Linked DNA regions of Homo sapiens: region 1 is linked to region 2. The links come from fine-mapping of genetic effects on gene expression. Tissue or cell type: whole blood. Region 2 holds a variant in brackets; the other region holds the start of a gene. All regions are shown on one strand. Distances are between the middles of the regions.

The links. PIP is the estimated chance that this variant, and not a neighbour inherited with it, causes the effect.
Region 1: VAMP4 starts here. The variant in region 2 is fine-mapped to the expression of VAMP4 in whole blood (TOPMed, PIP 0.94).

What each region holds. Positions count from the first base shown.
Region 1 is chr1:171,738,476-171,746,316 of GRCh38, forward strand. VAMP4 (vesicle associated membrane protein 4) reads right to left here and starts at 3,590. Exons shown (of 8, transcript NM_003762.5): 1 at 3,435-3,590.
Region 2 is chr1:171,683,554-171,691,394 of GRCh38, forward strand. It overlaps the pseudogene RPL4P3. Among named protein-coding and RNA genes, the nearest start is that of MYOC, 35 kb to the left of the region's middle. The variant G/A (reference allele first, on the strand shown) is at 3,543.

The DNA.
Region 1 (7,841 bases), 55 kb after region 2:
ATAAATTTCATCAGATTTGAGACTTTGGGGCATAAGCTAATGTACTTAAAACAGTGTACATGAAACCCTGTATGACAGGGACTCCCTCATTTTTCTGACTTCAATTCCTGCCCTCTCACTTGTTCCACTCCAGTGACTGGGGCCTCCATGCTAGACCTCAACACCTAAGAAATAGTTAAAATTATGAGAAAATGGATGTAATTGCCCTAAGAGAACATGTGTAGGATATGAGTGATTTAAGATTTTTATAAAATGAAAGAGCAGAGAGTAGAGGGAGGACGTCTCACTGAGACATTAAATGCTTTACAATTTAAAGTTGGAGTCAGAAGACAGGAGAACATGCCTATTTCTCTCACTTTTAGTTGGTTGCTTAAGCAATGATTCAGTTTCCTCAGGTGTAAAATACTGATTTTCAGGCTTCTGCAGAGTTGGGACGGTCAAATTGGATAATACATGCAAAAATATTCTGCAAACTATAATGTCCCATTGGTACTCCATGAAAAGGGGTAAGTTTGGTAAGTACTGGTGTGATATCGTGATTTACAAAATATACTCATTTGGTCTTAATCCCCATTTCCTGACATATCCTTGGAATCGCTGCAGTGATGTGTCTTGTGTATGCTAATAAGATGACTGGTAGCTTAGCCCCCAGATAGATTCCAGATGGAGGCTGGTCACAGAAAAACCTAGGCATGATTAGAAGACTGGGACTTTACAGCCCCACCCCCTAGCTTCCTGGAAGGGGAGGAGGGCTCAAGGTTGAACTGATTTCTAATAGCCAATGATGTAATCAATCATGCCTACTAAGGAAGACTCCATAAAACCCAAAAAGGACAGGGTTCAGAGAGCTTCCCAAAAGCTGAACAAGTAGAGAGTTCCTGGACGGTGGCACACCTGGAGAGGGCACAGAAGCTCTGTACCCCTTGCCCTATGCACCTCTTCCATCTGGCTGTTGATCTCTATCCTTTATAATAAACCAGTAAACAAAGTGTTTCTCTTAATTCTGTAAGCCACTCTAGCAAATAAACTGAACACAAGGAAGGGATTGTGGGAACTCTGATTTATAGCCAGTCAGTTGGAAACACAGGTAAAACAACCTGGAACTTGTGATTGGCACCTGAAGTGGGGGGAATCTTGTAGGATTAAGCCCTCAACCTGCAGGATCTGATGCTATCTCTAGGTATACAGTATCAGAATTGAATTAGAGGACACCCAGCTGGAGAATCTGCTGCAGAATTTCCTCCTTGCTTGTGAGGAGAAATCTTTTGGGGGTCTGTGTTGAGAGAGAATAGGAGAAACTCAATTTTTTTCTATCAAAACAACTGGATTAAACAAAGCTAGTTTTCTTTGCTACAGAATGACTCACATCCTGTTATATGCTAATATGCATTGTGACTTTCCAGGAAAATGCTTGTGTATGCAACATACTAAAATTTTTTTTTGCGAAAAAGTTCTTCTATGCAAATAATGAATTTTCAGTATTTTTGACTAGATGGTAGATGAATACCCATCAATTCAGGATAGCTCAGAAATACTGAATGTTTTACTATGTGCTAGGCACGGTGCTCAGTGATACACATGCATTTTCTTTTACTCTTTATGATGCTTCTTTAAAGTAGGCACCAAGAAACTAGGAGAAAACTAAAGTTTAGTAACGATAACGTTAGTCACTACATTCATTGAAACAGCAGAGATACAGGCCTAAATTAATCAATGGCTGTGCATTATCAGTTTTAATCATTTGTTCAATTAGTTGCCCATCAGGTTTACAGAATTCTGTTCTAGAAAGACTCACTTCCTGCTAACAACCCAATAGTCCTGCTTCCTTTTCCATAAGAAGAAACACTTAGACCTTTAAATTAGGTATAGTTAGACATCAGTTTGTTTGTTAATGATATACACTTAAAAAAGAATAATCCCAGGATCTGGCTTCACGAACCAAATAAAAGTAATGTTTTAAGTCAGCTGCTTGTCAAAACCAAAGGACACACTTTTCTTTGATAAGAAATGCTTCCAAATCAGAAATTATTCACTTGTAACAAAAACCAAATTCTTGCTGCCTGAGTAACAGCTCTTGAGTTCTTGGTTCCACAATATTTCTGTCACATACATCTGGCCCTTTTATTCCTCATACTTTGATGTCAGAATACTTCATTCATGCAGAAATGTAACAGAATGCATGGAAAAACAGATGACAAGGCAAATTACTGAAGAACTTGTGCTTTTAACTATTATCTGTATTTAGATTTTAACCCCTGCAATGAGGCTGCCTCAACATCCCAAAGCAAACAACGGGCAGACTTATATAATGCCTTTATAAGACATACAGTAAAACTACAATCTTAAGGATGAGCAAACACCATATTCAGGTCTCTTAATCCCAAGAAACCATGTGCAACAAATAGCCCATCAGCAAAGCAGTAGGCAGATTAATTAGCTACCTTGATGAACTTTGATGTTATTTGCAACTGATTATTAGTAACTGATATGTGTATCAAACAACTAGTAGAAATAAATCATGCTCAGAAAGTAGACTAGGATATAGTCTGCCTAAGATTTCTCCTACAAAAAAAGACATGTGAATTCAGCTGTTTGTGACTAGGTATACATGTAAATAAGAGAGCCATCATGTACTTCCACATTGAGGATAGACCACCACTATACAATTCACTCAAATGAGTCACATCACCGTATGCTTCTTATACATCAGCATATACTTAAATGTCTATGTGTGCGTTTTTGTAAGTAGTACGTTATCTAGTCAATAGCTTTGAATCTGGGCAAAGGCTCTCCTTTTCCCAGCCTCCATTCTCTTTCTGATTCGTCTTCCTTGTCTGTCATCAGCCTTCTTGCTTGATGCAGTTTCACAGAAATAAAGTGACTTGGATGGACACAGACCGGAGATATTATTTGCAAAACCTGTCAAGTGTAACGATTCACCCCCACCTTCCGGTCATTATAAACACAGCAGGGTTGGCGCTCTTTCCCCCGGGCCCTTTAAATACACAATTTCAGGCAGCTCCGTTCACCCCCCACACCCAATCTGTCACACCAGGCCACGTCCCACGATATATCTGCTCCTAACGCTGGCCCTTCCTGCCCCATTGTACCCCCTGGAATTCCTCACTACATCCCACTCTTAACAAACCTTCCCCATCCATGGTACTGTTCTCTTCCCATCACCCCAGAGTACCCCTCAATTCCAATTCTTCTCTCCCTCAACTGCTCCTCGTCCGCATACCCCTGTCCTCGTCTTCCTTCCTCACGGCACCCCCGGCCCCAACCTTTTCCCACTCCGGGGTCCCTTCCTAGATCCCCGAGGCCCGCCGACCAGCCCGACTAGGACGTCGGGGGGCGGCAAGGCAGGGGCGTCTTCTTCGTTTCCTTCCTCCTCACACCAGCCCCTCCCGCTGCGAACAGGCCAGCGCCAGTACCTGAGGCTCCCGGGGAACTCCCGGCAGCTCTCCCGGGCTGGCGGTGCTGGGCGGGCGGGGGAAGGAGTAGGAAGCCGAGGTAAGAAGCTGGGAGGGGGAGACAGTTGGTGCGGACCCGGCGTCGGCCGCAGCGCCGCAGCAGCGCCTCCGCTCATCGAGCCGATCGGCGCTCGGCGGCCTGGCGCCAGGCGGAGGGGGCGGGTCCAGGGCACGGAGATAATCGAGGAAGTCGATCCGCCGAGCCCTATTCACCTAAAAGAGCCCGAACCCACACGCAGTTTAGATGCATCTCTCCAAATTTATGCTGTGCTTTAGGGGAGGAACAACCACTGGTTGTCCACGTTCCGGTCGTGATCCGGCGTGCGTGGAGGGCGATTAGGGGAGGAGTGGGAAACTTCCGAGAACCGCTCGGGACTGGGCGCCGCGCCGGAGTGCGTGGCTGGGGTGATGAGGCGTTAGAAAGAAGGTGGTGCTTGGTGGCACATCCGTCCCTCTGGCTGACTACGTTGAGTGGCAAGTGGAGAGTGGCTCGCAGCTCGAGGACCTGCTTCGGGTTCGTCTGGGGCCTTTTCTGAAGAAAGGAGATCTGTTTGATCCCCTGTTTACAGAATTAGAGCTAGACTTGGAAAGAGATGTTAAGGCCAGGCTCCTCCCTTTAGATAGGAGGAATATCTGGTTCAGAGAGGAGATTGACTTAAAGTTAACACGGCTAGTTTAGATAGATACGGGACGAGGGCTCGGTGTTCTTTTCCCGGTATCCCTTAGTTGTAACCTGAAAGCCTTCAGGAAATCGCCCTCGCCAGGCCATTCCGCCACTCTGCCCATTCCTTCCTCACTCCCTCCCCCTCCGCCCAATTTGGTATCATGTTTAGATCTCCACGCCCGCAGTAGCTGTCTACCAGAAACAATTCCTAATTTTGTTTTTCCGTTCTCTTATTTGTTTTATTATCCGTTCCTCCCACGCCCCAGCTGGATTATTTTACTCATTGAATCATATTCACTACACATCTTTTAAAATTAATACAGTATCTATGGGTCCTTTGTTGATACAGTATTTTAACTGTCTGAAATACTGTGCCAGGCACTTTCTAAAGACATAAAAATAAGAGGGGGTGTTCAAGAACAAGAGTAGACAAGAAAACAGCAGGAGGAAAGATCTGCGGACACTAAAGGAAAGGAAAGAATAGACACCCTCTTACCAAAAAGTTGTTCTTCTTTTGTTTGATGTTTATTTTTATGTAAAAATGTACTAACGAATTTGAAAGATGCCATGACTAAGGCAACGATGCTCCACTCTGATTCACTTGGAGTTGAATCACTTGGAAAGCTTTTAAAACTACGTAGGTGCCCACGTGCTACCTAGATTCTGATTTAAATGTTCTGAGATTTAGAAACAGCCGTTGAGTTGTCAGTTGAAGGTTCTGAAAGCTTAATGCTAAACTCAGTTGCCTGTGTTTATTCAGTCCAAGTTGCTGTCCAAGTCAGCAACTTGGACTGAAACGGCCCACTTAGAAGAGAAGCCTCTCATGGTTTGTATCCCTGTCTAGGTGTGATAGTGGGTCTACCCCCAGACTCCACAGGTAACCCTGACATTATTTTTTCTTCTACAGCTGATCTTTTTTTTTTTTTTGAGATGAAGTCTCACTTCTTCCCCCAGGCTGGAGTGCAGTGACACAATCATAGCGCACAGCAGCTCTGAACTCCTGAGCTAAAGTGATCTTCCTGCCTCTGCCTCCCAAGTAGCTGGGATTACAGGCATGAGCAGCTGTGCCCAGCACTTACAGTTGATTTTATGTCTGTATATTTGCATGTTATGGGCTATTTTCTGGCTTTGGTGCCTTAGCCAATTAGAGTTTAGCTAGTTATAGCCTCATCTCTTAGACAACTTAAGGTGTGGTCAGTGAGCTCTAACAGGCACGTCATTGCATAGCTTTTACAGATAATCCATTCTTTGGGTTTTTTTGTTTTTTAAACATAATTCTTTAGTCCTGCCAGTCATTTTGGAATGATCGCTTAGGAGAGGGGTAATGCAAGCCCCACCCTTAATCACCTGAACAAAGTCCCTTTGACTAACCCCAATATTTGTGAAACTTAGAAAATGTCATTTTACAGTTAACATGAATCAAATATACCAGTAAGCCTAAAAGATTATAATAGCACTGAGCTTAGAGTCAGAACTCCAAGCAACTTGAGTTACTTATTTCCTCCATTTTCTTTTTAGTGAGCTTCAGTTATTCAGATGTTAGTCCTCTAATTTTCTTTTCCCCTTTTTCAACATGACACCTTCATCCTTAAGAGGGCCTGCTGTCCTCCTAGCTAGAGAATCAGCGTTTTGCTGTCTTTCAGGACTAAATCTCTGGGTTTTTGATGGGATAGCAAAGGGAATCTCAGCATCTGATTCATTCTTAAACAGACTTTATACCATTCCGCCTGTATTTATAGCTCACATCATGCTCTCTTCAGCTTTACGTGGTGTTTCCAATTCCTGAGCCTTATACAGGGTTTCACTGTGTGTATCAGGTTGCTTCATGGCCTGCTTGGGATTCCTACTTTTCAAGTCTGCTAAGGCAATTGCATCTTGATTCATCTCCCTTCTAGCTTTCAATATTTTGTTGCTAAATGTTCAACATTACTTAAAATGTAAAAGTGAACAAGGAAATACCATTTTTCATCTATCAGTGACTGAGAAAGAAGGAGTTGAGCAGAAGATCTGCAATCCAGTCTCTCCCTTCGTAGGGAAATACTCTCAGGAAAGCAAGGTTAAAGCAAGCAAAAAAGCATGTGATTTTTATAAAATATAAAGTATATACTAATTACAGACCTCCTGGCAAACAAACTAATGGCATTTGCTAGCAAGAGAGTCCATATTTACGGAATTCCTCTAACAGGATGTCCCAGGGCTGGGATTGTTTATGGTAAACACATTAAGAATCGATGTGGTAATTCCAGCACTTTGGGAGGCTGAGGCAGGTGGATCACTTGAGGTCAGGAGTTACCAGCCTGGCCAACATGGCAAAACCCCGTCTCTACCAAAACTACAAAAATTAGCTGAGTGTGGTGGTGTACACTTGTAACACCAGCTACTCAGGAGGCTGAGGCAGAAGAATAGCTTGCACTGGAGATGCGGAGGTTGCAGTGAGCAGAGATCGCGCCACCGCCCTCCATCCTGGTCAACAGAATGAGACTCCCTCTCACAAAACAAAAAAGAATCAATGCGGATTTCAGGGGTATGATTAACTGGAAAATACCGCGGAAGTTATGTAACGTAGCATAAAATGGAAGTGTTTTGTAACTGATTTGGCTCCTTCTGTGTAAGTGGGGTGACTGTACACTTGATTTAGAAACCACATCTACTGTCCTGGGCCAGGATGCATCCAAAGCAAGAAGAAAGGACCTGGGGATTACTGGTATCCTTGAAACTATTAGTAAAGCTTGATACTGAGTAAAATCTCTGATTTGAGCCTGATTTGACAGTTTGATCTTTTGTGTTAGCTCAATAGCAAAAATAAAAAAAATTTGATACTACAATATTGGGTGTGTGTATGTGTGGTATGGGAGCAGCGTGGGAGGAACAAGCATTCTTAAACAGTAAGAGTATAAAAATTGGTGCATTTTTAAAAATTTCATGGTAATTATATGTATCAAAATTTTATATGAAGTTCTTTTTGATCTAATAATTTTACTTCTAAAATTTATCCCATGGGTATACAGGTTGTATATAAAAGTATTCTATAAAAATATCTGTTACAGGATTTTTGTAACAGAGTGAAAAAAAAAACTCTAAATGTTCAGCAATAGGAAATTGCTGAAATGAGTCATAGTCTAGCCATTCAATAGAATAGTATGCAGCCATTAAAATGAACTAGATAGATCTATATGTGCTGACATGGAATACCTCTATGATGCTATAAGGTGAGAAAAGTAAGGTGCAAAATAGTGTGTAGACTCTACTTCCATTTGAGCATCACACACACACACACACACACACACACACACACACCAGGAGGACTGTGAATCTGGCATGGAAAGTGTTATGGACTGAATTATGTCCCCTCAAAATTCATATGTTGAAGTCTTAACTTCCAGTGTGACTAGATTTGGAGATAGGGCCTTTAGGACAATAATTAAGGTTAAATGAAATCAAAAAGGCAAAACCCTAATCCTGTAGGGCTAGTGTCTGAGTGCATGGGCACAGAGAAGAGGCCATATGAGAACACAGAAGATGGCCATTTGCAGTCCAGAAAGAGAGGCCACACCATAAGCCAACCCTGATGACTCCTTGATCCTGGACTTTTAGCCTCTAGGACTGTGAGAAAATAAATTTCTGTAGTTAAGCCACCTAGTCCATGGTATTTCATTATAGCAGCCCTAGAAGACTAATACAGAAGGGAAACTTTCTTGATGTGT
Region 2 (7,841 bases):
TTTTCAAGATTCTGCTAAGATCTGTATTGATCATCTTATGGATGGGAAGATTGTAGTTACTCTTGAGAGAAGAAGCTTTACGCCAAGTGCCATTAAATTCATCTAACTTCTGGAAAGCACTTTTGGTCCAAATGCAGAAAAGTCCCACATGCCCACCAGGAGCAAGCTTCAAAATGTTCAGTTTGCTTACATTAAGCAGAGTAATTCCAGGGATGTTTCTGAAGGCCTTGATGATACCATTATCCTCATTATAGATGATGTAGGGGCCTGTGCACTGGATACAATGACGGTTTCTCATTTTGCCCTTGCCAGCTCTCATTCGCTGAGAGGCATAGTCCTTTTTGATATCATTCCAGGCTTTAAATTTCTTAAGAAGCGAAACAGCCTCCTTGGTCTTCTTGTACCCTTCAACTTTATCTTCGACTACCAAAGGAAGTTCAGGAACTTCCTCAATACTATGACCTTTAGACATGACCAGTGCTGATAAGGCTGAGGCAGCCAGGGCAGAACAGACGGCATATCATTTTTGGGTTGTGTTCACTCTATGATCCTAACGGCATCAGGTTTTGGTTGGTGCCAACATTCGGCCTCCACAACACATGTTTCCAGAAGCACCCTGGCCAGAATGGTGAGTCCCATAACACCTTGAACTCTGGGAATTTGAGCCACAGCTCTGCCGGTACCCCAAGATTCAGCACTGGTCTGACGACCTGCTAATTCACTGACAGCATAGGGCTGTCTGTTGTTTTTGTGCAAGTTGGTGTGAACAAAGTTCACAATATCTGGTCGAATAGGAGCCTTGAATACAGCAGGCAAAGTGACATTTTTGCCAGATGACTCCCCACTTTCAGAGTACACCGATATTAGTAGGCGAGCACATGCCATGGTGGAGAGGAGAGAGCCACGCTCCTCTCACCATGGCTGTTGCCACAGGCAAAGTTCTCTGTGCTTTTAAAAATGTGCCCCACATTTTAATTTTGCGTTGGGTCCTGGAAATTATGTAGCCAGCCTTACATATGGGAAAGAAGGTTAATGAAAAAAATGGACTGGGTAGTAACTTAATAATCTGAGTGTATGATACTTGTTTATCACCTGTTTCCCATCTCTATTGACTCAGTGAAAGTCTGAGAGATTTATTTAGAAAGGAAAACTGCCTTAGTGTCTGCAGCTTCCCGTAAAGAATCTGATCACTTGTTCCACTTTGGATTACAGCCTCGCCTCTGTCACACATCACCTGTGTAAGTGCCGGGCAAATCATTAAACTTCTCTCTTGAGCCTTGATTCCAGAGGGGTTATGGGTCTGGTGGCCAGGTAGGTAGTAGAGGGCAGATCCTGAGATGGGCCAGCATCCTCCTGGAAGTTACTTGCCTTGTTTTGAGGCTACTGAATAGCTTTCAAGCAAGCAAGAGTGAAGGGGGAAATGGGGTTTTATGTTTCAACAAGGGGGACTGGGCCACTTCTGCAGGTCCAGGGAGTTCTGGGGAATCTGAGCATTCAAGATCCTCAAGTAGGCTGAGTGCAGTGACTCATGTCTGTAATCTCAGCACTTTGGGAAGCTGAGGCAGAAGGATTGTTTGAGCCCAGGAGTTTGAGATCAGCCTAAGTAACATAGCAAGACCTCATCTCAATAAAAAACAAAACAATTAGCTGGGCATGGTGGCATGTGCCTGTAGACCTGACTACTCAGGAGGCTGAGGCAGGAGGATTGCTTGAACACAGGATGTTGAGGCTGCAGTGAGCTGTGATGGTGCCACTGCATTCCGGCCTAGGCAACAGAGTGAAATCCTGTCTCAAAAAAAAAAAAAAAAAAAAGGAAAAGAAAGACCCTTAGGGGCGACTACCCAGATATCCCATCCCAAGTCTCTAGGCCCTGTTCTTTCCCTAACAAGATCCTGACTTTGGCATAGGAAACTTGCTGAGGCCGAAAATTCATCCTTCTTTGAAATTCTGCCACCTTAAAACTAATTCTGGGCCTGGTCTTCAACTCTCTCTGCTCTTCAGCTTCAGGAAATAAAGGTCTCTTTAACTACTCTCCATTAGAGAATTAGAGATCTCTGATTCTCATATCTTGCTTTAAATTCACAATTGATTGCCCTGCATCTGTCACATCTGTCGTTTTCTTTTTTTCCAAGCTAAGAATGGAGTTTAGCAGCAGCCGCTCCATGTCAAAATCCTTAAAATGACCGTATCTCCTGTTCCTCTCAAATGCCAGAGATGGCATGACTTTCACATTCCCCTCTACTTGTATCCCTCTCACTTCACCAGAGGTGAACACTTTAGCAATGAATGGCACTGCTACTGCATGTCAGAGACTACTGATATCAGTACTTACCCCACCTACCACCAGTGATGTGATCCTTATTGCTCTCTCTTCAGTGGGTGATCTAATTCCAGAATCCCATCCTTAGAACCTGTTTTCTGGGACCAATACTGGTACTAACCCTCTTCAGTTGGGCTCTTTAGAAACAGTTGGCTACAGGGATTCAGGTACATGTGATTTATTGAAGGAGTGTTCAACTATCTAAGAGACTAAGAGATGCAAGACAATGAAGGGAAAGGGCCAAGCAAAAATGGTCTCAGGTAAAGTCTAGCCTTGGCCAGATTCAAGGGTGTGTGTGGCATCTGAAGCATATATCACAACATGGAGTTGTCCCACCTTCAGATAAGGGGTTCAGCCTTTTTGACCCCAATATCAGTCTACCATTGGCTCCAAGGTACCTCCAGGAATGGGACATAATTCAGAGGTGAGGTGGCTCCCATTGGCTGACAGCAGTTCTCCAGAGAAGGGGGCAAATGTGAGCCATTGGCAGCCAACGTTAACAACATCCACAATAATAGCTGGGGAATGGAATCTGGGCATCAGATGCACTTTCTACCCTCCTTTCAGGATGGTGACCGGTGTGGCTTACACCGCTAGGATTCCTTGCCCTTTGTTTTTCAATGGGGTTCAAAAATAGGGGAGTCTGGCTGGGTGTGGTGGCTCATGCCTGTTATCCCAGCACTTTGGGAGGGCGAGGTGGGATCACTTGAGGTCAAGAGTTTGAGACTGGGCTGGCCAGCCAATATGTTGAAACTCCATCTCTACTAAAAATACAAAAATTAGCCTGGTGTGGTGGCACGTGCCTGTAATTCCAGCTACTCAGGAGGCTGAAGTGGGAGAATCGCTTGAACCTGGGAGGCGGAGTTTGCAGTGAGCCAAGATTGCACCACTGCACTCCAGCCTGAGCGACAGAGTGAGACTTTGTCTCAAAAAAAAAAAAAAAAAAAAAAAAGCGGAGTCCTAGCATCAGGTCACAGGGAATAAAACAACAACTAGGCCAGGGTATTTATTCCCCTGGCATCCTCCCTGTAAGATCACCTTAGGCTGGCTGCATCCCCTGGCCAAAAGTCAAGGTAGCCCTCTGCATGTGACTTTGTCCTTCCAGGTTTTAGTAACCTCTGCCTTCCCTCAACCCTTCAAGGTGTACTATCCTTTGTAGTTTCTTTAAGCCCTACTACCTTTATAAATTTACCTTTATTAAATTCTCCTTGAATTATTTTGA[G/A]TGTGCTGTGATGTAAAACAGAATGCTACCCTGGCAGCAACTGATGAGATCAAGGAAGGTAAGCAGTTCAGTTTTCACTGTAAGTGCAATGAGACTTCATCAAAGGGTTTCAAGTAGAAGAATTATCTGTTTTTGAACTCTCAATTTTGATTTCTCCCTTAGCTGCCAGTATAATGTAAATTTTCCAGTAATTTTTATCAAGAAAAGAGACAAGGACGTTATGTTTTCTGAACTCTCATATTTTTAAGAATATTGTGTTTGTGGTTTTCATTTTTTTTCTTTTTAAAGACAGGGTCTTGCTCTGTCACCCAGGCTGGAATGCAGTGGTGCCATCATGGCTTACTGCAACCTTGACCTCCAGAGCTCAAATGATTCTCCCACCTCAGCCTCCTGAGTAGCTGGGACTCCAGGCATGCGCCACCATGCTTGGCTACTTTTTTTAGTTTTTGTAGAGACAGGTTCTCACTGTGTTGCCCAGGCTGGTCTCAAACTCCTGGGCTCAAGTGATCCTCCTGCTTCAGCCTCCTAAAGTATTGGAATTACGGGTGAGAGCCACTGAGCCCAGCCTGGTTTGCATTCTTTTTAAAAAATTTTCCAATGGTCCATAGAATCCTCAATGGTTTTCATTCTTCTTTTTTTTTTTTTTTTTTTTTGAGATGGAGTCTGGCTCTGTCGCCCAGGCTGGAGTGCAGTGGCACGATATCGGCTCACTGCAAGCTCCACCTCCCGGGTTCACGCCATTCTCCTTCCTCAGCCTCCTGAGTAGCTGGGACTACAGGTGCCCTCCACCACACCTGGCTAATTTTTTTTTTTTTTTGTATTTTTAGTAGAGATGGGGTTTCACCGTGTTAGCCAGGATGGTCTCGATCTCCTGACCTCGTGATCCGTCTGCTTTGGCCTCCCAAAGTGCTGGGATTACAGGCTTGAGTCACCGTGCCTGGCCTGGTTTTCATTCTTAAGTGACAACTGGTTTGGTATAAAAATTCTTGAGTCACAGCTGTATCCTCTCAAAAATCTACAGATGCTGTTTTAGTATTCTATAATTCAGTGGCAGAAAAGATGGAGGCAAGCTTAATTTTTGCTTCCTTGTAGGTAACACATTTTTCAGGTCTCAATGCTTATAGAATTTACCCCTTTAATCTTACTATTCATATACTCTACTACAAGGTAACTTAATGTGTCTTTTGATAATTTTTTTTTCTCCTGAAGGACTTTATTAAAACTTAAGTTTTCATTAAAGAATACATCAAAGAATAATGTTTCTGATGATTGCTCTGTTTCACTCTTTTTGGATTTCTTCCACAGGAACACTATGTAATTCTTAGTAGGCCTTTTTTTTTGGTCTCCTAGATCTAACATCACACTGTCCATTTACAGTTTTGATGTTTTTCCTCTGTGTTCAGTGGCAGCTTCTTGAACCTCTCTTCTGCATCACTGATTTTCTTCAATCAATTCTACTCCTCACTGCTTCAGTGAAGGGCTTAATGTTTGTGTTGCAATTTGTTTCCTGGCAAATTATTTTAACTTGCTCCCCTTTTGGCTGACCTAACTGTATACATAACACATTTAATTGTACTTCTTTTCTTGCCTTTTCTCTCTTTATGACTTTCTGAATTCCAAAAGCATCGGTTTCATCCTGTTGCAGATGCTGAGGTGCTCAAAATCAATTTAGTTCTTGTGGTACATCATTTTTTTTTTTTGTACACACGCATCTCTTTCTTTTTTTTTTTTCCTTTTTTTTCTTTATTATTATTACACTTTAAGTTTTAGGGTACATGTGCACAATGTGCAGGTTAGCTACATATGTATACATGTGCCATGCTGGTGCGCTGCACCCACTAACTCGTCATCTAGCATTAGATATATCTCCCAATGCTATCCCTCCCCTCTCCCCCAACCCCACAACAGTCCCTTGAGTGTGATGTTCCCTTTCCTGTGTCCATGTGTTCTCACTGTTCAATTCCCACCTATGAGTGAGAATATGCGGTGTTTGGTTTTTTGTTCTTGCGATAGTTTACTGAGAATGATGATTTCCAATTTCATCCATGTCCCTACAAAGGACATGAACTCATCATTTTTTATGGCTGCATAGTATTCCATGGTGTATATGTGCCACATTTTCTTAATCCAATCTATCATTGTTGGACATTTGGGTTGGTTCCAAGTCTTTGCTATTGTGAATAATGCTGCAATAAACATACATGTCCATGTGTCTTTATAGCAGCATGATTTATAGTCCTTTGGGTATATACCCAGTAATGGGATGGCTGGGTCAAATAGTATTTCTAGTTCTAGATCCCTGAGGAATTGCCACACTGACTTCCACAATGGTTGAACTAGTTTACAGTCCCACCAACAGTGTAAAAGTGTTCCAATTTCTCCACATCCTCTCCAGCACCTGTTGTTTCCTGACTTTTTAATGATTGCCATTCTAAATGGTGTGAGATGGTATCTCATTGTGGTTTTGATTTGCATTTCTCTGATGGCCAGTGATGGTGAGGATTTTTTCATGTGTTTTTTGGCTGCATAAATGTCTTCTTTTGAGAAGTGTCTGTTCATGTCCTTTGCCCACTTTTTGATGGGGTTGTTTGTTTTTTTCTTGTAAATTTGTTTGAGTTCATTGTAGATTCTGGATATTAGCCCTTTGTCAGATGAGTAGGTTGCGAAAATTTTCTCCCATTTTGTAGGTTGCCTGTTCACTCTGATGGTAGTTTCTTTTGCTGTGCAGAAGCTCTTTAGTTTAATTAGGTCCCATCTGTCAGTTTTGGCTTTAGTTGTCATTGCTTTTGGTGTTTTAGACATGAAGTCCTTGTCCATGCCTATGTCCTGAATGGTAATGCCTAGGTTTTCTTCTAGGGTTTTTATGGTTTTAGGTCTAACATTTAAGTCTTTAATCCATCTTAAATTGATTTTTGTATAAGGTGTAAGGAAGGGATCATTTCAGCTTTCTACATATGGCTAGCCAGTTTTCCCAGCACCATTTATTAAATAGGGAATCCTTTCCCCATTGCTTGTTTTTGTCAGGTTTGTCAAAGATCAGATAGTTGTAGATATGCGGCGTTATTTCTGAGGGCTCTGTTCTGTTCCATTGATCTATATGTCTGTTTTGGTACCAGTACCATGCTGTTTTGGTTACTGTAGCCTTGTAGTATAGTTTGAAGTCAGGTAGTGTGATGCCTCCAGCTTTGTTCTTTTGGCTTAGGATTGACTTGGCGATGCGGGCTCTTTTTTGGTTCCATATGAACTTTAAAGTAGTTTTTTCCAATTCTGTGAAGAAAGTCTTTGGTAGCTTGATGGGGATGGCATTAAATCTGTAAATTACCTTGGGCAGTATGGCCATTTTCACGATATTGATTCTTCCTACCCATGAGCATGGAATGTTCTTCCATTTGTTTGTATCCTCTTTTATTTCCTTGAGCAGTGGTTTGTAGTTCTCCTTGAAGAGGTCCTTCACATCCCTTGTAAGTTGGATTCCTAGGTATTTTATTCTCTTTGAAGCAATTGTGAATGGGAGTTCACTCATGATTTGGCTCTCTGTTTGTCTGTTGTTGGTGTATAGGAATGCTTGTGATTTTTGTACATTGATTTTGTATCCTGAGACTTTGCTGAAGTTGCTTATCAGCTTAAGGAGATTTTGGGCTGAGACAATGGGGTTTTCTAGATATACAATCATGTCATCTGCAAACAGGGACAATTTGACTTCCTCTTTTCCTAATTGAATACCCTTTATTTCCTTCTCCTGCCTAATTGCCCTGGCCAGAACTTCCAACACTATGTTGAATAGGAGTGGTGAGAGAGGGCATCCCTGTCTTGTGCCAGTTTTCAAAGGGAATGCTTCCAGTTTTTGCCCATTCAGTATGATATTGGCTGTGGGTTTGCCATAGATAGCTCTTATTATTTTGAGATACGTCCCGTCAATACCTAATTTATTGAGAGTTTTTAGCTTGCAGGGTTGTTGAATTTTGTCAAAGGCCTTTTCTGCATCTCTTGAGATAATCATGTGGTTTTTGTCTTTGGTTCTGTTTATATGCTGGATTATATTTATTGATTTGCATATATTGAACCAGCCTTGCATCCCAGGGATGAAGCCCACTTGATCATGGTGGATAAGCTTTTTGATGTGCTGCTGGATTCAGTTTGCCAGTATTTTATTGAGGATTTTTGCATCAATGTTCATCAAGGATATTGGTCTAAAGTTCTCTTTTTTGGTTGTGTCTTTGCCCGGCTTTGGTATCAGGATGATGCTAGCCTCATAAAATGAGTTAGGGAGGATTCCCTGTTTTTCTATTGATTGGAATA